Linked DNA regions of Homo sapiens. The protein of the gene in region 5 purifies or fractionates together with the protein of the main gene of each other region. This does not show direct contact. Each region holds a gene or a part of one and is shown on either strand. Other genes may lie near its edges.

Evidence for each region.
Region 1: the proteins of FAM53C (region 5) and LRFN1 purify together in Homo sapiens (affinity purification with mass spectrometry, with the first as the bait; one large-scale study listed by BioGRID). This does not show direct contact.
Region 2: the proteins of FAM53C (region 5) and SIPA1L1 purify together in Homo sapiens (affinity purification with mass spectrometry, with the first as the bait; one large-scale study listed by BioGRID). This does not show direct contact.
Region 3: the proteins of FAM53C (region 5) and SRSF12 purify together in Homo sapiens (affinity purification with mass spectrometry, with the first as the bait; one large-scale study listed by BioGRID). This does not show direct contact.
Region 4: the proteins of FAM53C (region 5) and CREB3L2 purify together in Homo sapiens (co-immunoprecipitation; one large-scale study listed by IntAct). This does not show direct contact.
Region 6: the proteins of FAM53C (region 5) and DEPDC1B purify together in Homo sapiens (affinity purification with mass spectrometry, with the first as the bait; one large-scale study listed by BioGRID). This does not show direct contact.
Region 7: the proteins of FAM53C (region 5) and DCLK1 purify together in Homo sapiens (affinity purification with mass spectrometry, with the first as the bait; one large-scale study listed by BioGRID). This does not show direct contact.

Annotation. Positions count from the first base shown.
Region 1 is NC_000019.10:39,308,465-39,310,863, forward strand, and holds part of LRFN1 (leucine-rich repeat and fibronectin type III domain-containing protein 1 precursor), read right to left. Parts: intron 79-2,399; coding exon 1-78. UniProt on the Homo sapiens protein: Promotes neurite outgrowth in hippocampal neurons. Involved in the regulation and maintenance of excitatory synapses. Induces the clustering of excitatory postsynaptic proteins, including DLG4, DLGAP1, GRIA1 and GRIN1.
Region 2 is NC_000014.9:71,739,093-71,741,709, reverse strand, and holds the end of SIPA1L1 (signal-induced proliferation-associated 1-like protein 1), read right to left. Parts: coding exon 2,549-2,617; 3' UTR 501-2,548; downstream 1-500.
Region 3 is NC_000006.12:89,104,572-89,108,071, forward strand, and holds part of SRSF12 (serine/arginine-rich splicing factor 12), read right to left. Parts: intron 2,688-3,500; coding exon 2,583-2,687; intron 2,457-2,582; exon of another isoform or gene 2,110-2,456; intron 1,385-2,109; exon of another isoform or gene 1,319-1,384; intron 980-1,318; exon of another isoform or gene 960-979; coding exon 856-959; intron 690-855; coding exon 548-689; intron 1-547. UniProt on the Homo sapiens protein: Splicing factor that seems to antagonize SR proteins in pre-mRNA splicing regulation.
Region 4 is NC_000007.14:137,995,587-137,999,086, forward strand, and holds part of CREB3L2 (cyclic AMP-responsive element-binding protein 3-like protein 2), read right to left. Parts: intron 1-3,500. UniProt on the Homo sapiens protein: Transcription factor involved in unfolded protein response (UPR).
Region 5 is NC_000005.10:138,336,832-138,341,065, reverse strand, and holds the start of FAM53C (protein FAM53C), read right to left. Parts: upstream 2,801-4,234; 5' UTR 2,759-2,800; exon of another isoform or gene 2,711-2,758; intron 1-2,710. Other genes in the region: CDC25C (M-phase inducer phosphatase 3), read left to right, coding at 2,911-3,110.
Region 6 is NC_000005.10:60,697,367-60,701,471, forward strand, and holds the start of DEPDC1B (DEP domain-containing protein 1B), read right to left. Parts: upstream 2,801-4,105; 5' UTR 2,728-2,800; coding exon 2,680-2,727; intron 1-2,679.
Region 7 is NC_000013.11:36,110,883-36,114,382, forward strand, and holds part of DCLK1 (serine/threonine-protein kinase DCLK1), read right to left. Parts: intron 1,334-3,500; coding exon 987-1,333; intron 1-986.

The DNA.
Region 1 (2,399 bases), on a different chromosome or scaffold from region 5:
GCCAGCACGCACAAGTCGTAGGCACGGCCCGCCGCCAGGTCATTCACCAGGAAGGTCTGACTGGTGGACGGGATCATCCTGTAGGAGGGGGCGGGTTCAGGGCGGGGTTAGTCCCCCCGAACCACGCCCCTTCGCTTTATGCCCCGCCCATGGTGAACAGTGGGGACTAAACCCTGCTATCGAAGTCTCAGCCGCTACTGAGACAACAGCAGCAATTCAAGCCCCGCCTCCATCAACATATTCCCACCCTTTCACACCCCTCATCTGTATGCCCCGCCCTCAGACCCACCTCCTGGCTGTGTCCCATCACCCACTGGGACAATATATCTATCATTCGTATTACCTCCTCTGCATATCCCGGCCCCTGCAGGGGAGAAGTGCTATGGCTTTTAAGCCCTGCCCTCAAGGGACATGCTCCCTAGCTATGTCTCACTCTTGCTAGGACAACTGCCATTCAAGGTCCTTCATCTAGGCATTTCTACCCCAAAACTGGGCCAACGCTACTGGCCACCTCCCCTTTTCTGCATGCCCCATCCCCCACTCAGGTGGACACTAAGGTCAGCTCACAGCGCCTGTCATATTCCTACTGGAACAATGGATGCTCTTCTAGTTCCTCTTTTATACATATTCCTGCCTTTCAGGGAAAACCATGATGCAGGTCGCTCCCCCTTATCTGCATGCAGCACCTTTGGGTAAAACATCTAGCTTTGGCCGGCTGCAGTGGCTCACGCCTGTAATCCCAACACTTTGGAAGGCTAAGAAGGGTGGATCACCTGAGGTTAGGAGTTCAAGACTGGCCTGGCCAACATGGTAACCCTGTCTCTATTAAAAATACAAAAATTAGCCAGGCGTGGTGGCAGGCACCTGTAATCCTAGCTACTCGGGAGGCTGAGGCAGGAAAATCGCTTGAACCCGGGAGGTGGAGGTTGCAGTGAGCCGAGACCACATCATTGCACTCTAGCTTGGGCTACAAGACCGCAAGACCGAGACTCTGTCTCAAAAAACAAACAAACCAAAAAAAAAAAAAAAAAAAAAAAAAAAAACCATCTAGCTTTGTCTATGTCCTGGAACAGTTTCCAAGTCCCTTAACTACATGTTCCCTGACATTGCTACAGGCCATTCCCCAACCAAATGAAATGTGGCTTCCAGGCACACCCCACAATGGCCCACTAAGGATGGTTCCCCTACTGTGTATAGGCCACATCCAGACTACAGGCCCTGCTCCTTGTCCAGATATTAAAGGCAACCACCTCATATGTTCATGTGCCACCAGAAGTCACCAAATCACGCTACCAGGTAAGTTTCTTCCGTAAAGGGGTCAAACGTAGCCAAGCACACACCATATTCCTTTCTTGCTGTAGGCCCCTCCCCTCGAATGAAGACTAGTGTAGAGAAGTGGTTAAGATGACAAAGGCTGGGGGCCAGATTGCCCGGGTTTGAGTCTCTCCTCTGCCACTTGCTTGCTCTGTGACCTCAGGCAAGTTTCTCTTTTGTTTCATTTTGTTTTGTTTGAGACAGACTCTCGCTGTGTCACCCAGGCTGGAGTACAATGACGCGATCTCGGCTCACTGCAATCTCTGCCTTCCGGGTTCAAGTGATTCTCCTGCCTCAGCCTCCCGGACAGCTGAGATTACAGGCACCCACCACCACACCTGGCTAATTTTTGTATTTTTAGTAGAGATGGGGTTTCGCCACGTTGGCCAAGCTGGTCTCAAACTTCTGACCTCAGGTGATCCATCCGCCTCGATCTCCCAAAGTGCTGGGATTACAGTCATGAACCACCACGCCCGGCGAACTTCGCCAAGTTTCTTAACCTCCCTGTGTCTCATTTTCCCCAAATGGGGATGATAATAATTCCTACATCATAGAGATGGTGTGAGGAATGAATGAGTTAACACAGCCAGGACCTGGCACTTAATGATATCATCATTAGCTTGCATCACACCTCGTGTTGGCCAGTAACCCTTGCTGTGGCTCACACTATCCAGCCCATTGCATTCCTCCCATCTATAAGATCTACCCCTCTGGAGGGCCATTCCTGCTAGGCCTTGGCCCTCTTCTGTTGAGCACATCGTTTCCACACTGTGGGCCATGTCCAGCCTCAGCTAAACCTGGACTGCCCGTTCCACATTGATTGGCATGGCCAGGATGCAACCTCACAAGCTCTCTTCTCCAGCAAAGACTCTTGGTGGGTCCCGGGAGACAAGGACTGCCCCTTCCTCTTCGTGGGACCATGCAGAACAAGCTCCACCCCCTCTGACAGGCCACATCCCCACCTCCGAAGGCCTGCTTATCTCTCCGATGCTTCCGCTTCCCCTCCAGCAGAGCCACCTTCTGGCCCTGAAGCTCCACCTCTGTCATCCCACCTCCAGGAGGTTCTCCCACTACCAAGAGCCACC
Region 2 (2,617 bases), on a different chromosome or scaffold from region 5:
AACGTATAAGCCCTCCGAACCATGTAGGAATCATGGTCTAAACAGACCTTTTTAGCTTGTTAATTGGAATATTTTGTGGCATCCATTCTTATGCTAGTCCAAGAACTCTGGAATCTGTAGAACTGTTGAACCAAATAAAAGGAAGAAACTCTACTGTCAGCACTCAATTAGCTGCGCCGCTGGAGAGGAACAGTGACGTGGTAGATTAAAAAAAAATTGGTTCGGTTTGACTTTGGAATGCACTGATTTTTTTTTCAGTAGATTAACTTTTCTAATTATATTTTGCACAGCCTAATATTAACAGGCATTTGTATTCCCTGGGCACACAACATCTGACATTGAGAGCTGGGAGATGCAGCCCAAAAATGTGCTGGTCTCAGAGAATAACAATGTTATGAAAAATCCATGCGTGGATAATGAAGGGGAAGCTAATTATGAAGTGCTCTGCAAATATTAAATCATAAGCAGAGAAGGCAAAATAGTAATTCTCTATCGACATGTGGACAGAGTAAAAAAGTTTATTAACATTCTGAGAAGGACAGAAATTTTCAAGAATCATCATTAGTGTTAACAAAGCTTGATGAAAAAATTCGGATGCAAGGAGGGTCAATGAGTTATTGGGTGGTCTTTCAAATAAGCAAACCTCAAGCAATAATACCAAAGTGTTTTAAAAGAGCGTTTAAAATGAATTTTATTCTTTGAATTTTACAGGTAGTCTTTAGAGGCTTCAAACAAGAACTCTGTTGCAAAACTCTAATAAATAGCTTGCCCCAAGTCCCCAAACAAAATGTAAAACAAAATGAGAACTAAACTCAGAAGGATAAGCAAGACTTCAGAATGCTTGGATGTTAGCAATATTTCTCATTTACAAAGAGATATCAGGCAATGTACAATCTCCTTCATACAAGTCAAAGAGAGAAAGAGACAGACAATTGAAATCTTCACAAAGCACTCCGAAATCTTCCTATTTCCATGATAGAAATGTCACCAGAAAAAAAAAATTCCATGGAGAAATCACAATCAAGAATGAAACTGTAGCATAAAAATCTGGTAGTGAATGTAGCAGGGAGAAGAGAGGAAAATCCATCCTGTTTCTTTCAGGGATGGAGAGAGGAAGGAATTGAGATTACTTGGGTGAGGGAACTTCCAATCAGATGCCGCTAGAGTGCTGAATGTTCCCTTAGACCAGAGTTGCCACTGAAAGGGCAGAGGGGTCGGTTTAGTGACAGTTATGAAGGCAACAAACAAAGGGGTCTCCTCAGGTCAGTCAACACTGGCCAGCCCCATGTCTCTGTGCTCTACAGCAGCCTTGGAAGAGTGACCCAGGGGCCCAAAGCAGCCTGCATCACAAGACAGCAAAAATAGCACATCAATAATTTCTGCAGCGGAATCCTTTGGATGGCCATGAAAGGATGCAGAAAATGCCGTGCTGAAATTTCACACTGGGACATGCAGGTTTCAAAAGCCCATTCTAGTATCACAGTCATTATTCCTAACAAGCAATGATTAAAATTCACAATTAAACATTCACTGTTAGCTTCTCCTAGTTACAAATACTGGTGAAGTCTTGCTCTGGAGAGAAAGATTAATTTAGAGATATGGTCATTTTCAGCAAGCTAAAAAAACCAGTTGTGCCACATTTTTATCTTTAAAAATCTTTAAAACGTATACTTTTGACCAAAATGCATTCAAAATGCAGACAGATAAGGTTTTAGTTTGGGGGAATTCTGAAATCAATTAATGTTTGGAGCCAGGAAGCTGTAAGAGAGATTGATTCCAATTTAGTGGGGCTCAATTAAGCCAAACAAAAAAGAGTCTTGCAGCACAAGTGGGACCATCTTCCTGGGGAAAGGGAGAAGCAGGAAATGACCTCACAATGCAGGACTGAGAAGGGGTGTGGCCTGCAGGCACTGTCAGAGCTGCTCTGGTTTACAGACTTGCTGTTAAATATTTAACTCCGGTCCTGCTGATCTCTGGAGGACAGGTACAGACAGCACTAGCTCATGCACGAGTCATTCAAGGGAGGTAGGCATTTTCTCAAAGCAACTCCCTCTCCAGGCATTTTAGGGAAGAAGGTAAGGAAATATCCCTCTCTACTCCCCAAACAAGTTATAAAAACATTCTTTTTCTAGGAATAATGATATTTGTTAGAATAACAAGGGAAAGCTTGGGTTACCTGAAGTTGATAAGAAAGCTGATGGGAATAGAGGCGGATGGGCCAGGGGGCGCCCTGGTCCAAGGCCCAGTTTCTTCTTAAATACATAACAGATAAAGATATTGTGCAAAAAAATAAAGACATTCACATTTTAGCAGTTAAACTTTTATTTTACTGTTTAAAATTTTTATTTACTTTTTTTGTTTTTCTTTTCTACAAAAGGCAGGTGATGATTGTTGATCTGCAACTATTGTGTTGTGCACTCCCCGAAAGGGGGCAGAGTAGGAAGCCAGGGAAGGTGCTCTGAGGATGCTTTCTATGGAGGGAATAAGGGCTGCAGGACACTCACTGGAGGGAGTGTCTGGGCCCTTCTCCTGTCCTCCTCAGCCTTCCCTAGCTCATGTCTATGGTGTTGAAGACCCATTCTGTGAACTTCTTCAGCTTGTCCGAGGCGTTCTGGGA
Region 3 (3,500 bases), on a different chromosome or scaffold from region 5:
CTATATATTATCTTCTCATGTAAAAAGATAAAGTTAAGTCTGTAACTTTAACAGAAGAATTAATCCCATAAACCCAAGTTAAATAACAATATATGATAAATAGAGAAGAGTGTTATCTTTTAACAAAAATTGATTATGTTTGTACATTAAGCAAAATGACTAAGGTGGACTGTTTATAAAAACTTTAAAATATTTTCCAGGCTGGGTGCAGTGGCTCACACCTGTAATCCTAGCACTTTGGGAGCCTGAGGTGGGAGGAACACTTGAGCCCAGGAATTTAAGACCAGCCTGGGCAACATAGCGAGACCTCCAATCTCTACAAAAAATTAAAAAAATTAGCCCAGTGTGGTGGTGCACACCTGTAGTACCCGCTACTTGGGAGGCTGAGGTGAGAAAATTGCTTGAGTCTAGGAGGTCAAGTCTACAGTGGGCCATGATCGCACACTACTGCACTCCAGCCTGGGAAACAATGAGACCCTATCAAAAAAATATATATCTATTTCCCAGAAAAAGTAGAAAATGAAATTTTCAGTCCTCTTATACTCACTCTTTAAGGCTGTCTGACCGCCTCCTATTTCTTCCCCATGAAGAACTTCTACTTCGAGTTCTTCTTTGGCTGGGGCTTCTTGATCTCCTGTGATCACTTGGAGAACAAGGATGACGTTCTTTTGATTTCATTTGGCCTGGTGCTGGAACATAAAGAACAAGACTTATGACATAATTCGTTACCTGAACACCACAGTAACAACCACTCAACTAGCAATCATTTACTGAAAGAATTTTAAATTAAAAAATCAGTCATCACTGAAACTCATTCTGCTGAATAAATAAAATCTAGCATTCAGTCACACTTACTTTTGCGATCACCTTGTGCAAACTGTATTTCAATCTGACGGCCACATACCCACTTTCTATTGAGGTTATAAAGAGCATCTTCAGCATCTCGAACATCTTCAAATATGACTAGCTGTTAAGGACACTTTGAACATGAGATATCAAGTAAACATATTTTAAAAGCATTATTTACATGTGAAATGAAATTAATAGGAAAATCAAGTTCAAGTTATTAAGCTCACATCTTCAATATAATATGAATAATCAGAAAAAAAACTTTCACTTTTTCTCATGAAAACAAATGACCCATTATGTTTAGAAGAGTGAGTCTAAAAATAAAAAGAACAAAACAAACATGTAACTGTACTTTTAGTGTCTACAATAGTGTGGCTGCAGTATGCATGTATAATTTGAAAACAAGAAAAACAAAAAAAAAGTCCAAATTTGGCTAGCATTATAAAATTACAAACTGTTTAGGACTCACTCCCTTCTTTCAGATAAAGGATCCATCAGATTTTTCACTGAATATCAGCATGCAGAAGCCTTTATTCTGAAATTAAAATTACTCTTTCATTAAAAGGCTTAATTTTAAATTTGACATTTAAGAGAGATTACTTATAAACAAAACTGCACATATACAAGTGAGTTAAAACAAAACCGGATTTAGTGCTTTAAAAATGGTATCTACTTTTGAACCTACCACTTTAAATGTTTATGTTTTTTTCTGTTTTTGAGATGGAGTTTCCCTCTTGTCACCCAGGCTGGAGTGCAATGGCGCGATCTCAGCTCACTGTAAGCCCAGGTTCAAGAGATTCTCCCGCCTCAGCCTTCCAAGTAGCTGGGACTACAGGTGCCCGGCACCACACCCGGCTAATTTTTGTATTTTTAGTAGACACGGGGTTTCACCATGTTGGTCAGGCTGGTCTCAAACTCCTGACCTGAGGTGATCCACCCGCCTCAGCCTCCCAAAGTGCTGGGATTACAGGCATGAGCCACCGCACCCAGCCAAACATTTATGTTTTTACTACTTGGGATATAAATATAAAAGAAACATAAAAGCAATCTGTAAATATCTGGAATTACATATACTGGTTTGTAATATCCCACTAAACTTCCTTATGTATATAAATTATATAATATTAAACCTAGCTATAATGGAAATTAGCTATATAAAAATAAGTAACTTTTTTTAGGAGGTTGTTCACTGGTTTAATTAAAAAAATAACAAACAGAAAAAGCTCAAGATACACAATATAAAACGAGACTGGCAATTACCTCAATGTCACTTGATCTTGAACCTTGACCTTTACTCTTTAAGGCTTGCAAGATGGACTTTATAAGAGACGCAGAACCAACAAAATCAGACTTGGCTTTGACTCTGGAACTCTGAGTAAATGTAGGAAAGCCGAAGTCTCAACCTGGTGTTGGCTTTGTCTTTTGCTTGATAAAGACTTCCCCTCTTCCAGGTCTTTATATCTGTGTCCACCCTCCCTCTTTACTCCTTGATGCTTGAACTTTAGGTGCCTTTTGTCTCGCCTGCTGGGTTTATGCTTGGATTCTAGCTAACAGGTTGGTTCAAACTGGGGGGTGCTTGCCAGCTACTGTGGACTGCTTTAGATCTTCTGAGATAAAGAAATAAACACATTTAATTAGGCAATATTAATCTCATAACATATGCTACTGAATACATATATGTATAAGCACGCATATACAGTATATTCACATGCACACAATAAAATAAAGGATATTGAACATAAGCAAATCCTCTTGGGCGGCGAGTGTAGAAGTCAAGTGGAATGTAAACGTCTACTATAGGGCCATATCGACCAAACTCACGGCGCAAGTCCTCAGGCCTGAAGTGTTTTAGAAATAAGGCAAAGAAATATGAATAGCTGGATTAAAATATTTTGCCTACAGAAATCCACTTGAAACCTTCAAAAGAAAGAACATCATCTAGACCAGCATTATCTAAAATTGTTTTTTGTAAGAATCATGCAAGGTTTTGAAAGAAAGGGAAAAAAGAAAGGAAAAAAACATTCTCAGGCCAGGTGTGGTGGCTCACACCTGTAATCCCAGCACTTTGGGGGACCAAGGTATGTGGATCACTTGAACCCAGGAGTTCAAGACCAGCCTGGGCAACATGGTGAAACCCCGTCTCTACAAAAAAATACAAAAATCAGCCAGGTGTGGTAGCGTGTGCCTGTAGTCCCAGCTACTCGGGAGGCTGAGGCGGGAGAATCACCTGAGTGAGCATGGGGAGGTTGAGGCTGCAGTGAGCCAAGATCACACCACTGCACTCCATCCAGCCTGGGTGACAGAGTGAGACCCTGTCTCAAAAAAAAAGAAAACACGAAAAAAACCTCCCTAGATTCTCAGACCTCTCTTGGAGGTTCTGATTCAGGAAGTATGGATTAGAGGCTGGAAATCTGTATCTTTACAAGCACTCCAGGTGGTTGTTATGCTTAATTTCCAGAAACACTGACCCAGCATATCCACCTCTGAAAGTTATTATAAGACCTAATAAGTAATTGTTTCACTAAGAACACATTCATTTTGCTTCACTTTAATTTCATGTTTATGTTAATCTTGTTTTCAGATAGCAAGAATTAGATTCTAAAGAAGTCCTAAAATTATTTATCAGGCTTTAAAGAAAAATGGATGTTTTA
Region 4 (3,500 bases), on a different chromosome or scaffold from region 5:
CCCCCCAAAGTGCTGGGATTACAGGCGTCAGCCACCGCGCCCGGCCAGGGGCTCTATTTCACAACCTCTTGCAACATGAGATAATTTACTTACTGTATGAGCCGATCTGAATCCATTTTCAGTTACTTCTAGCTGCAAGCACTGTAATTAATTCAATTATTAATCTAGATGCTATATCTTATAACTCCTGCAAAAGCAATGTCACATCAGAGACCCCTGTTTCCCATGAACACTGTAACTCAGGGATCATTCGAGAAGGAGGGCAAATATAAAACTCTGTACTGCCCTCTCATCTTTCAGGACTGTGCCTATGTCTACCACCTCCCAACCAATGTTACTATCATGAGAACAATTTCAGAGACAGTAAAATAATCCGTCAAAGATTTTTTGCTAAGCCAAGGGAAATCCTCTAGATCATAGACAAATTAGCAACACATAAACAAGGCTGCCTTATGAATAAGAGCCACATTATGAAATAATGGAGGGCAGTGAGGGTTCCTCTCCCATTCCCCAAATATTCGCCCACTACTACCTGGCTATCGCCCTAGGTTCTCCAAGTGGAGATTCACCCTTTTGACCTGAAGTAATTATTGTTAAATATAAATGCCCATTTAGGGTTAACATGTTAAATCTTACTAACACTAAAATTTCTAGTGAAAGCTTATCAAATCTTTCCTGACAGCAAAATTTGAAGGGATGAAATTGGAAAGAGAACATTACAGTGAACACTTGATGTCTAAGAAAGGAGGGGAACACAAAAGGGGCGAGAATGTTGAAAGGTGCCACAAGGGTCTGGAAAAATTATACTTACTTCCCAATTCTGTCTCCCGTTAGAACTCACTACATTTATTCAGCTTGTGGAGGTCATGTGACCATAAGTAATAACATTCTCAGCCAATGAGGACCCGGGTGCCCCTTCAGAACCTGGCCTGGGGCCAACCCTAGGAGTTAACTCCAAAGTGGAACATCAAACCAAAAGCTTCAATATCGCATTGAAATCATATCACTCTCCGGGCCAGGCGGGAGGAACAGGAAACCACACAGTCTGTGAGATCAGCCAACTCCTTTTCAGCACTCAGTAAGACATGGAAGCCAGATGGCCTTTCCATCTGGACACCAGGCAGGTCGAATATTCCCCCAACTCCCTACCTACCACTGTCTGGGACCAGTGGTTTCACTTGAAGAACCAACCAGATATAAAACTGTATTAGCATAACCACCAAATGATTTTACAAATAACTTGGCTTTATAGGAATTCTGCATTTTAAACAAGCAGAACTTCTGTTGTTACTTTCACAAAGACTTAGTTTTTATGATACACTTTTTTAAAAGGATATAATCATGGCGAAAATTGCAAAAATTGTTTTATTTTCCAGATGGCTAAACTGAGATAGAAGAAAGGAGAACATTATCAAGATCTTGATGTTTATCATGGGCAAACCACCTGCCAACCTCTCCCCCTAAAGCCTCTTTCCATGGGGCCTTCCCACTTCCCCTGTTCTTCATCCAACGCCTCCACTGACCTTGAGTGGTGTTGAGTTTCTATATAGTACTGAAGCTCCCTTTTTCCCCCAAGAACACTTGGTTGAAAATTACCTCTAGTCCAGTTTTACATGGTGCCTACAAGTTGTATTTCTTCCATTTTCTAGACATAGTGACGAGGTAAAAATCTGAATAGTACCAACAGGTATAGTGTGTAGACATGCTTCCCTTCATCTCTTGACTTCCACTTCCCCAAGCTGCTTTCCCAAAAATTATCCACTTCTTGAGCATCCTTCCAGATACAGTTTATACATATATAAAATACATTTTAAAATTTATAGATTATTTTGCTCTTTAAATTGCAAAAGGGGGCTGAGCACAGTGGCTCACACCTGTAATCCCAGCACTTTGGGAGGCCAAGGCAAGAGGGTCCCTTAAACCCAGGAGTTGGAGACCAGCCTGGGCAACATACTGAGATCCCGTTTCTACCAAAAAAAAAGAAGAAAAAAATTAGCCAGGCATGGTGGCACACACTGATACTCCCAGCTACTCTGGAGGCTGAGGTGGGAGGATCACTTGAGCCTGGAAGGTTAAGCCTGCAGTGAGCCATGATTGAGCAACTGCACTCTAGTCTGGGTGTCAGAACAAGACCCATCTCAAAAATAAAATAAAATAAAATAAAATAAAATAGAAATTACAAAAGCACAGACAATTCCCAGAAAGTAATTTTCAGAGAATTTTATAGGAATACAATACAAATGGCAGAAATGTCCAACATACAGGCAGGTCTGGGGAAAGAGGCAAGGTTTCTTCTCACGGTGGTACCGAACCCCAAGAGATATTCTCCTGATTTCTAGATTTGCCATCTTTTCTGAACCAATTTTAGCCTGTATTCCATCTTGAAGCAACAGCTTTCCTAAAATCAGTACTCACTGAATTAAAATAACATTTCATCATCTGTATGGAAACAATTTTTTAAGCTTCAAGAGGAAGCCCAGAGCTTTAGCAATTCAGGATCTAATGATCAGTCCATCTTTGCCCTATCCATATGCTTCATTATTTTGTAGACTCTGAACCTGTCTGCCTTTGTCCTTGTAGACCAAGATGTCTTCATAACTAACCAAATGAAAAAAAACATTGCTCCTAACGGTTAACAGAAGGCTCCTGAGAAACATCATAATCTCAGCCTTGGGTAACTTGAACATTCTAAATTGTTTAAATCAAGTATGTGACAGGTTTGCTAAAACAGAGCATTAGCAATCATGCATGTAGTAACTAAATCCCTAGTAAGAGCAACAAAAGTGATCTCACTAGGAAGGTTTGGTGGCTGCCACTGTCAGCCTCATTTAAACATTAGCTGCTTTCAGGCTCAGCAGTTCCTATATTCCAATCACTCTCTCCCAACCTCTTATTCAGTTCCTTCTCTTTAAGTCAGGATTCTTCACTCAGACAGCCTGATAGGCAAGTACTTGCAGGCAGGCAAACATGGGTTTGAATCCTGGTTCTATCACTAAATAGCTGTGGGAACTGAGCCAAGTGGCTTAAACTCACGAAGCCTCATTTTTCTTATATGTAAAATAAAAGTAATAAAAATGGCTCATTTCACTGGGTCATTACAAGGGTTAAATGGCATAATATTTGTAAAGCACTAGACACAATGTCTTTCAGCAGGACCAGCTACGTAATTTGTGAAACCCAGTGCAAAATGAAAATGTAAGGTCCCCAGTTCAAAAAGAATTAAGATTTTCAAGATGGTGACAGCACAGCATCAAACCAAGTGTGGACCCCGTGGCACTGCATGGGTGGCAGGCCATGTGGTCAGCCCTGCCTTTCGGATGATAAACACTCAATAGATGGTAGCTGTCATCATCTCTTACCACCCTCACAACTCGTATTTGAACCTCACCCTCCCCTCAGGCTCTCTTCAACTTGGAAAGTTTTATGAAATCATTCCAAAAACAGGCACTGGTGTCTCAGAAGCACCCAGAGTTTATAAGACAAATAACTCACCAAAATGA
Region 5 (4,234 bases):
GATCACAGCTCTTTCCAGCTAAGCCTAAACACAGCTTCAGAAATTATGAACTTGGCAGTCCAGATATGAAATAAAATAGAGTTGGCAATCAAGTTGAAACTTATTTGCTACCCTTAAACTGGTTCATGCTCTGTTGTTTCTAACTGGAATACCAGCACCACTTAGAAAACAGCTGCTCAAGTGAGAGAGAGGGATGCCCAAATGATTATTTCCATCAAGATCAGCCCAGTATTTTATCTTCCAGTCAGAAGTGAAAAGAGGTACCCTTCTCCTAAACTACAGAAATAGTAATAAGAGAACAAGGAAGAACAGTGGTTGTAGGCAAGACTTTCTGCTTTAGACCTGAGTACATAGGATTTTATGTCCTCCCACAGCCTAAACATCTGATATATTATTGTTTTCCAATAGATACAGTGTTTGTTTTCTTATCAAATGGGAAGATAAAGAAATGGTCAGGGTAATTCCAATACATTTCAACTCTACAGACGTCGTAAACAACAACTCCATGACTGTTCAACTAAGTTTTTAGCCTCATCTGATGCAAAGTCCATGGATACAGTTAACCAAGATTCTTTCTCGTGGTCAACTTCTGATAGAAGCAAACTAACTGTATCAGATAACAGGCTTCAAGCCCACACAATTACCTGAGGGGCCTTGCTCAAGGGAAAAGGGGAGGTTAAGCCAGTGTCTTGATTTTGTTCTATCTATTCCCGGAAATGAGCAGCAAGCTGACAGCTTACCAGAGAATGTGTGTAGCATTAGCTAGTCAAGAGAACAAATCATCAAGAAATCTAATTATTAATCCAATTTGCTAAGAGTTTTGACAAATCATTTAATACTCCTTGGCCTCAGTTTACCCATATGTAAAGTGGGCAGAATAATCTTAACCTGTCACAGGAACAATATAACATATTAAAATGTACAAAATGTACCATCTGACCTATAAAAATCAGGAGTCCACACAGACTACCATTTCTCGTTCCCGTTTGTGAATCTTCAAGGCCTCAGAATGTCAGAAGTAATGAAATCAATAAGATGAAGAAGGCAATAGGGTCCATCTCTCTGGCTGAATACCATCCTCCCTCACCTGCACACTAAGAAAAGCCCAAGAGGGCTCTTCCTTCTGTGACCTTGGGGGCAGATCACTCTACAAAAAAGAGGAATTATCTCTACCCCACTCACACCTTAGAAGGAGGGCACAAGGAAGAGCAAAGAGATAAACCTGGATGTACCTGGAGTTCTCTGGAAGAAAGGTGCAAGAGAAGTCAATCATCATTACAGTTAACTATCATTTTCATGCATAATTATTACCACCCTGAACAAAATTCTAGCTTCCGGGGAGCTCTCTTCAGCTGCTTCCCCTATATTCTTACGGGAGAAGCTAAAGCTTATATCACTTCTGCTCTTGGTTTCTTAACTCTGCTGCCCTCAAAGATCAACCAGAGAGGGAACCTAAGTGCAGGATTTTACCCTAGAGACCCCAGGCCTCAGGCTAACCAGCTATGAGGAGCAGGGAATGAAGCAAACTCTCCAGCTTTTCATGAGGCATTTGGACAAACAGCAAACTCCCAGCCACCTCTAGGATCAAGTCAAGACAGTGAATTTGTGTTTTTCTGCATTTTAATTGTTGGGATGTGGCCACACACAGTGGTAATTGGAACAATGCAACTACCACCACGCAACTGATACTCTCAGCCTGAGTTTCCTAAAACAGGCCAGGCTGCGAGGGGGAACAGAACGGAAGCCATAAGGAATCAAACCAGGACACAAAAGAAGGCAAACCAGCTCCGCGAGGGGCCTCCTCTTTCTCAAGCAGGCATTGAAAAAAGTGTAAGAAGCCCTCTCTTGCCGCCTTCCTTCCCCTTCCATTTTGTGTATCTGAAGGGTAGAGACAGCCCTGAATATTCACTAAACAAGTTAAAACTTCTCAGTTTAACAACTGGCACGGGGCTCAGCCCTTCACAGAGCAGCAGGCCGCTAGGCCCTCTCAGCAACCCCACCAGACCTAACTCTCAGTCCAGGCTTTCCCTCCACCAGCAGCCCCCAAAAATAAAGATCAGACCCCCACCCCATCTCCTATTGGATGGCAGTAACCCCTGACACTCCTGTTTCAGGGATGCTGAGGTTGTGCTGTACCAAGACAAGGTAGGATCAGGTCAGGCCAACAGGGAGGAGAGTCACAAACCCTTTGGGGACCTTCCCCTCAGGTCCCAGCCCCACACCTCCTGGGGAGACTGAAGAAAAACATGAGGAAGGCAGGGAGCTGCATGAACAGGTAGGTGGAGATCTGCCTGCTCTTCTTCCATATGGTTCTGGTGGGGAAAGGGGTGACAAGTGGGGAACACCCCTCCCCCCACCCCCATGAAGAAGCAAAAGGCTAGGCCCCTCCAATCTTCAACCTCTCCCTCTGTTGCCCTGCCTGTCCCCGCGGGGTGGGGCATGGGGCGTCCGCTGGTCCCCGGGGCGGGGGGGGGGGTGCGCCAGGGCTCGCTCAGGGGGGCTGTCGTTCGCCTCTTCCCACTAGGTTCCATCATCTGGCCGCGGGAAGCGAACTCAGGACGCAGGGGATGGGGAGGGTCTGGGACTTAGCACTCCGCCACCCCCTCCCCCACCGGGTCCCGTGCTCTCCCCGCAGAGGCGGCCAGCGAGGCCCGGCCGCGCGGGCGGTCGGGCTGGGGGAGGGGAAAGAGGGAAGGAGGGAGGGACGGTTGAGGTGCCCGCCCCGAGGCCCCAGCGCCACCTGCCCTCCACCACCTACCGCGGTTCCTCCAGCTCCCAGGGCCGCGGCCGGAGCAGCTCTGAGCGCTCGGTTCGCCCCACGGTGCCCTTAAAAGGCGCTGGCGCGAACCAACGAGTCCCTGAGGAGAGTAGGGGGACAGCTCCGGCTCGCAGAATCCCCCCAAGCCACCCATGGAGGGCGCAGCTCCGTGTCGTGTCTCTCTCAAAGTGTCTCTCGGACAGCGCTGTTGGGAACGAGCCTGGCGCTTTGATTTAGGGATGGGGGTGGTTTCCTCACTAACGAGTCACCCCCTCCAAAATATCGCAGAAAGTGGACGGCCCCAGTTGGAGGCACATCTTGAAACCCGCGGGGGAGGCCATGTCGGAAGAAGGTAAACAAAGGCATCGCCCCTGCCCTCCCTCCCTCCAACGGCCCAACTGCAGCCTCCCACTCGGTTCGGGCCGCGTCACGCAATTAGCCACAGTGCCCCTCACCTGCTCTGCTGCCCCGCCCTCCACGACCACCTCTTCGAAGGAATCCCCCTTCCCCCAGCAAAGGACCCGTCCGCGGCGTGAAGGCTGCTGGGAAGTGTGGTCCAAGCGCGGATTAGGGCCTGCTCGGAGTCCCAGGAGCCCCTCTTGCAGCTGCCGGATCGGCCTGAACCTTAAAAACCCAGGACTTATAATGGTTGCGGGGACGTTTCCACTTGGTTCTGTAATTTGCCCTCACCCAGAACACTTTGTAAAGCTCAGGATAGCCCAGGGCTGTTCACTCCCTCTCTTCTCTCTCCGCCCCCTCCCCCCCAGCAGGATGAGGTAATGGGATTGTGATTATGACATCATAGGCGGTTCAGTTGCTTGCGTTTGCCTGGGGGGAGGTGCGGGGAGGTGGGGAGAAGTGCGGTGGTTAGACTTTCCTTAAACAGAAAGGGAAGGAGGAAACAGGCAGATGGGGAAAAGATGTTGACGGCGCTATATTTCCACTTCAGGAAGACAAAACCACCTTTTATTAAGTCTCCACCACTACCACCACCTCCCACATGAGCCAAAATTTAAGTCTTTTTTAAAGAGATTGAATGTAGACGTTAGTGTGTGAAGAGGTTGGGTTGATGGTTTCTGGCTCTTATGTAAATTCGAGTCTCAGCTAGCATCACAGATGGTTTAGGGAGACAAGCAAAAAAGTGGATAAAGGAGAGGCTTTAAACAATGCGTTCGTGTTGTGATCTCTTTGTAATACAAAGTTTTCTATTTCTTTTTTTTAATTGATTGGAAAGTAGCAGTAATGCAAGTAATCTTCACTATTACACTTAGCAGCAAGTCCTCTGAAAGACATCTGTTTTCTGTAAATATTTTGTGCCTTACTCAAGACTGGGACAGGTAAATAGCTGTGATCAGCTGGAAAGTAGAGCCAGTGGCGGGGGTCGTCCTCACTGAGCCAGGGAGGGGAGGAGGCAGGAGCCACCAAGTCTACAAACTGAAAAAGAGTAGAGGAAAAATGAGGTACAGTACTAACTGA
Region 6 (4,105 bases), about 78 Mb from region 5:
TTGTATCCCAATAGATTTTTACCAAGCTTCCCCTGAAGAAAGTTTAGAATGAGCATGATGGGAAAAGGGAGAAATTGTATGCTGCAGATAGAGGGAGGAAAGGCCAACTAGGTCCAACAAGTAAAAAGAGGACTAGTCTCAAACTATTAAATATATGATTTACCTAGCAAAAGCTTTAAGTCACAGCTGAATTACACTGGGGAAACAATTACAGACTTTACAATGGAAAGAAGCATCTTCAATGTTGGCTGCAATCACTGACAGCAGGAATACTCACTTTTGAAAAAAAAAATTGGCTATTGTTTTCTGTTTTCCACATCTTAGTTTAATATTATGTTCCTCAAACACTATGAAGTTGAGAACTGAATTGATTACCTGGGAAATTCTGGTGAAACTGAGGTGTTTGTTTCATTAATTATCCATGTCATTTATCTTCTTAACTTAATCAACCTAAATTTAGCCTGAATATTATTTGTTAGGGACTGAAGACTTCTAGAGAGCAGAGAGCACCTTTTTTTAATTAAACAAATTCCTTTGATAATATTTTAATGTGACTCAAGAATCCAGCACTATCTATATATGGACCCTCTGCATCCATGAAAAGAAGTACCTCATACAATTCTGTGAATATGAGACTAAAATACAATTCCAATTATGAGGTATTTTTTTTTTAGTCTAATGCAGGAAGAATGAAGACTAGTCACGTCAAGAACCACAGCCTTGCTATGTTTTCCTTGTGTAAGTGCTGTAAATAAATTGGTGAAGGGAATGATCAAATGCCTTATTTTCCTCCCTAAAGTTAGACTTATCAATATTCTTGACCCCAGATCATTCTGGTGTCTATACTGTATAGAGTGTTCGCAAAGATGAGTGCAATGATTCTTCCCATCCTCTCCACATGCACCTCTGTGGCTTTGCCACCCTGCCCATCAAGAAGTGGAGTTGAATTTCTAGAATCTGGATTTAGCTGTTTAACTTGCTTTGACCAATGAGATTTGAAGAAAAAGTCACAAGCTGAAACTTCCTTTTAGCTACGTTGGAACCATGAGACCACTACGTGAAGATGCCTCCGATAACCTGTTAGAGATATCTGGCCCAGGTAACAGCCAGGACCAAGTCAAGCAGCCATCTTCCATCATCCAGTAATAGCCAAGTCACATTATTTGTGGCACATGAGTGACCTCCACAAAAGAACCATTGACATGAGTCTAGCCCAGATTACTGATCCAAAGGATGAGCAAATAAAATGCTTGTCTTTATGCCAAATAAAACAATGTCACAGACTCTCCCAATCTCCTTATTATTTTTTTTTTTTTTTGAGATGGAGTTTCGCTCGTTGCCCAGGCTGGAGTGCAATGGCGCGATCTCAGCTCACTGCAACCTCTGCCTCCCAGGTTCAAGAGATTCTCCTGCCTCAGCCTCCTGAGTAGCTGAGACTATAGGCGCATGCCACCATGCCCAGCTAATTTTTGTATTTTTAGTACAGACGGGGTTTTGCTGTGTTGGCCAGGCTGGTCTCGAACTCCTGACCTCAAGCGATCCATCCCCTTAAATCATGTAAAATTTCATGAGTATGTGCCATGTGCAGTTTTCTGTGAAGAAGATCCTTAATCTTCATCAGATTCTCAAAGCGATCTATGAGCCAAATTTAAAAAGTAAAGACCCATCAGCCCCAACTATGATTTCTCTTCCAGAAGCTGGCCTTCTCAGCTCTGGCTTGACTTACTGGTATAGTGTGTGGCTGGCTTTGGAAAGAAAAGGAAACTCTATTTACATTATCTGTATCCCAGCATCCTCACCTCTTCCATGAGTCTAGCTGAGTAAGAGTTTGGATGTTAGTTCCCATCTTTTCCTGTGTATTCATTATAATGCATGGAACTATGAGAGTAATTCCCATGTTAAATGTGGCCAGAGAGGTCGGCAGACCAAGGAGCAAGTTACTGTCCTCCCAAATTACCATTACACTTCCACAGAAAGTCCTCTAAAAACTTGCCACAGACATTACCAAACTGTCACCCTTTATTGTTCCAAGTCAAAGCAGACCAAGTACACCTCAATACCAAAGCTTTTCTCCCAGAAAAAAAAAAAAAAAAAAACAGGAACTCAGAGTCGGCAAAGACTCTCCTAAAACATCTGTCCTGGCCAGCTCTTCATCTGGATCGGTGCTGACAGAAACAGAAACGCCAGGGGCCGGAAATGCGGCCAGCGCGATGCCCCTCTGTTCTGGGCACCGTTTATTCGAATACCCCGTCAGGTATCATCAGGTGTCACTCAGGAAGGAGACACGCCCTGCCTGGACTGCCGCGAACGCTGAGCGTTACGGGGTACGTGGTGGCCCCTCAGGTTACCGACCGGGTCGGTTAGATTCCAGAGGACAAAAGGCAGGGAACAGCCTGGTCTTGGGGTCTTTAAACAGAGAGGCGCCATCTACTGCCGAGAACCCAGTCAACATCTCATGGACAAAGCTGCACTAACCCCCGGCCGGCTGAGCTCTGGGCCCCGTTAGCCTTTCTTTGAGGCTCGTCCACTAAAAGGCAGCCCCAGTAGTCCCAGCTGAAATGCTCCACACCCGAGCCCCGCTGGCCTGCGGAAGCGAAGACTGACAAGCACTCTGTCCGCGCGCTGAGTGGGGGCTCGCGGCACCGGGTGCTCCGCCCAGGCCCCAGCACACTCACTCACCAGCCTGGTAGCTCGGTACGGCCCGGGCCCCACGATGCGATGCTCCATGGCGCGTAGGCAGCAGCGGCCGCAGCCGCGCCAGCGCTGATCCCCGCCAGCCGGAGGAGCAGCAGTTTGAATCCCAAGCCCGCGGGCTGCGGGCGCTGATTGGGCGGCGCGGCAGCACGTCACCGGAAATGCGCGGGGAGGCAGGCGTCTTCTCCGAGACCCGCGGCGCTGGGAGCTCCGCGTGCGAACTTGCCCGGGGCGAAATCTGTTGCCCACCCTGGTCCCACCGTGCGAGCACACCTAGGCAGGTGCGACTAAGGGGCCGGGGGCGTCTCCCCAGCGCTGGAAAACGCTGTGCAGCGCCCTTCCCAGATTTCTGCGTCCGCGCAACACAAACACACGCAACGCTATCTCTACAAAAGGGTCAATAATAGGTGTTATCCAGCGACCGAAACCCAGCTTTGGGCCGCGTGGATAAATACCTGTCCTCCCTACCAAGTGCACTGTGAGCCTGGAGGTGCTGCTAACGCTGGGAGAAGCGGTAGTGAAATGAAGCGAGGCGACAGCTTTTACCAGTGTAGGGACATTTAAAAACGGGATAGAGAGCACAAGGAGCGTAGACAGTGTGTTAAGGGCAATAAAGAGCGGGAAGGGAGCCCCGATTCCTCTTCTGTTTGTTCTCATGATAGTCTTTTCCCCTTTAATTTGAGTTCTATGTTTTGTATTGGGCTGATACTTTTAGTCCTCGGCAATAGGGTTGTGAGTCCTTTTTTGACTGCTTAGAATTTTCCCCCTGGGAATTGCTAGTCCGATTTGCAATCTTTCAGAGGGACAAATGAAGTAACTCCATATACTTAGGACTCTGTACACCTACTCAAATTTGGTCATCTCGGTAAGTACCCAGGACAAGACGTTGAAGGAGTGAAGGTGTGCCATTCCAAAATATGCCTAATTGGTATATTGATTATTTCGAGCGGAAAACATTGGAGAAATGGTAGTTTCAGAAAGGGCAAGCTGACCTGCCTCTTCGATGCAGCAGGCCACAAAGATTTCTCTGGGATGGGCATCCTCTCCCTACCACGGTGAGAAAATAGCCTTTATCACCAAAGGCTTGGAATTGAAGGCTGCAGTGGACCTGAATAAACATTCTTAACGAAGTAACCCTATCTTCCACTAGGAGATATAGGAGATTTTTTACATATATCTTCTAGTGACTCCCTAGAAAATGTTACTGCCTTTGTGAGCTGTGGAAGTTAACTCGAGTCACAGGGCACCAAAATATGTTAGCAGCTGCCCATATCCGAGACACGGCCCCAAAGTATGTTACAGGCAGTGAATTCCTACAGATCTGCAGCAACCTCAATTCTTGACTCCTCAGAAGAAAGAGTTCGACTGAGGGGCATAAGGCAAAAGGAGAGACCAAGGCAAGTATTAGAAC
Region 7 (3,500 bases), on a different chromosome or scaffold from region 5:
TGCAGTGGTGCGATCTCGGCTCACTGCAAGCTCCGCCTCCCGGGTTCACGCCATTCTCCTGCCTCAGCCCCCTGAGTAGCTGGGACTACAGGCGCCCACCACCACACCCAGGTAATTTTTTTTTTTTATTTTGAGTAGAGACGGGGTTTCACCCTGTTAGCCAGGATGGTCTCGATCTCCTGACCTCGTGATCCGCCTGCCTCGGCCTCCCAAAGTGCTGGGATTACAGGCGTGAGCCACCGTGCCCGGCCCTAATCAATGTTTTTTAATTCAACTCACCATCAAGGTTCTGTCAAACCTGTACAAAAATAGTCCACCCAAGACAATAAAAGGTGATGCTTCCTTTGGGTTCATCTGACCAACTCACATTAAAATGACCACCCATCCAAGTCAACTGATGTTCATTCTGTAGCTGAAAAACCTCCCTTTCATTTTAACACTGAAAAATACAAGATGCGTACTATTCTAGAAATATGCCTTTAAAGCTATCCAGATGGAAATATGTCATTTCTTAGATACATATTTTAAAATCTATAAAATGTAAGTAAATCTCACTAGCGAACACTACAAAGACTTAAAATCATAAAATATTTAGGTCAAAGAAATAAGTTAGAATTTTCCCTACTGGTCAGAGTTTACTTTCACACCTCAGTCATTCATTCTTCAGGCTATAAGATCTATGAGAAAACTGAAAACAGATGACAGAAAAGAATCATTATGTTAAGCAAATAATAAATGAACAAGTAGAAATCACTGAGTAATTATTTAATCTTCAAAGATATGCATTTTTTTCTTACTTTATTCCTATGAATAATCCTGCTCAACTCAAACTTCTGACTGTTCTAGGGCCAGCAAGTACATATTTGTTGATCAAGTGACCCAGGCCCTTTAACAACTTGAGCAAAATGTATGCTTTAGCCACGTACACCCTCCGACTCCCTGGTTCTTGCCTTAAAGTCAAAGTCACATCACAATATGTCTCTTACCTGTTTCCCATCCAACGTGTACAGGCGTTTCACCACTCCCGAGTCCAGCTTGATGGCATCGGTGATATCGGTGAGGACCTGCTCAAAGGAATGAGCCGTTTTCTTGTTCAGCAGAATCCTGACAGCTTTCCGTGGCTTCACGCCACTTCTGATGATGGTGACCAGCTTGGGCCGAATGAAATCCTTATTCTCTCGCACCTCTGAAGGGCTTCCTTTGGCAGTGGCCAGTGAAGACACTGCCCGAGAAGCCGAGGTGGTCTTGACGTTCACCGACCAGTTGGGGTTCACATTCTTGGTGTACTCCAGTTTCTTGAAGGGCTCTATGGAGCCACATACATAACTCTCTCCTAAGGAAGAGAGAAATATATTTAAATTTATACTAAAATATGCCCATTTCTTTTTTCCTACTTATCCTCTCTTTTGCCTTTTCTGCTTAGGGGCAAGAGCTAGCCCTGACTTTTCAAACAATGGAAGTGTGATTAATAATTAGGGAAAAAGAAAGATTTCTGATTGCTAATCTGGCACTGTCAGCAACAGATCCACATCCTGGAAAAACAAAACAAAACATTATTCCTCCATTTCCTCATCTTAAGGTCGGTGATAGAAATGCTGATCTACTTGAAAAGACCTTAGAGAAGTGTGAAAGTGAATTTAAAATAGAAAATATTCTTTGGGAATTAGAGATACTTAAATCTGCAGAAAATTTCAAAATTGGAAGTACCTCCATTTGCTACCTGAGATAATTTAAACACTAAGAATGAATCAGAATACAGCATCTTAAAATAGTCATATAATTTACGAATTTGATGAGAGTTGATGCTAAAGATTTTGTAAAGCCCAGTAAAGTTCCAAAAGCAAGCAAATAATCACCCTTCCTTTCTCTCATCTATATAGTGCCAATCACAGTGATCCACACATACTATAAGGTCAATTCATACTTGTTCATAAGTAAGAGGTTTTAGAAGTGTTCAACATACAAACTACAGCTTCAAAAATGGGCTCTAAAATAAATATAAGTAAATGTTTATTAAAAGTGACTCCTTAGCAGGAAATCTTTTAATGAAAATAATCAGACTATTAAGTAGATGTAGATCACACACACAAAAAAGAAAAACATGAACCAAGAGACAACAAATTGTAAAATGACGAATTCTAAATACATATTTCATAAAGTTAGGTCAAAGCCTTTTGAAATTAAAGATTTTGTAATGGCTTTTTTTCTGTGTTAATAAGTTTTTGTAACTAGGAATAGGTAAAAATGCTGAAAGACCTTCATAATTGTAGGTAAAATGACCGAGGCCTAATCTAACACAGCCCATTGACTTTTATCTAAGTCCTTGTATTATTTTTAAATTCACAGTGCAAGCATCCAAGGCCAAAGAATAAGTAGTCACATAAAAATAACTGAAGCAGGCCTTCAAAAGTTAAAAAGAGCAGTTATACATGTTACTGAACACTTGTTTTGCAGATGTTCTTAAAATATTCTCTAATGTGTATACATACACATTATGCCTCACTAGAAGTTGTATGAATAGTGCAAGTTTAACCAACCCCATTTCTATTCACCTGGCAGATCATGACTTGTCTCAGCTATGCCTTCCTCAGGATTTAAGTAAATATCAAAAACTTATATGTATTTTTGATATTTTCTTAAATCCTGAGAAAGGCATATTTGGGTACTATAGAAACAGCAGTGTTTTGGGAGTTTTCATGGAGTGATGACCTGCACATGATAGTGGGAAGAGAGAACTGGAAATTCGGGCTCAAGACCTGGCCTCTCCAAGCATGTGACTTTGGACAAGTCCCTCAGATTTCTGGGTGGTAGTTTATTTATCTATAAAACAAAACCTCATTAGGTTTTTCTGAAGATCAAATTAGAAGATAGAGATCAAAGTGATCTCAAATACAAACCTGCTATGTGAGTGAAAATGACCTGAGGCTACATACCCTAATCGTGCAGTAAGCCTGAAAGAAAAATTCAAAAACAAAATTACTAGAAATCGGTAAGCAGGTCTTATATTGAACAGTTACCAGTGGACACCACGTTGGGTCCATGTCAATGTGAGAATGCCCTAACACTCCCCAGTGAGACACACAGCATGTAACTGAGCTGGCAAAGCTAGCCTCTGTCAGAATTCTGTGCTAACTGAAGATATGCAATTGTCTGATTATTTATAAGTTTCTATACTAAGCTAATAACTAAAAGCAAAACAAAGATACAGAGAGCAGTTTACATTTCAACAAAAACTTTAAAAATATATTAAATTAGAAGAGGGAGCAGTTTTAAAGAACATAGCAACATGGAGTGAGTTTGTTAAAAGAGAAAATAAACACTTTTTAAAAATATCTTCTTAGATAAAGCACCCTGAAAATGTTTAAAAGCATAAGAAAGTTCTCCAGTTACACTGAGAAGGCGTTGCTGGTTTGGTTCAAGCAACAATGATCAGAAGAAATATGTGTTTAATCTGAGCTGTAAATGTGAGGCTCCTCTGCTGGATAATCAGATTTAAAGAC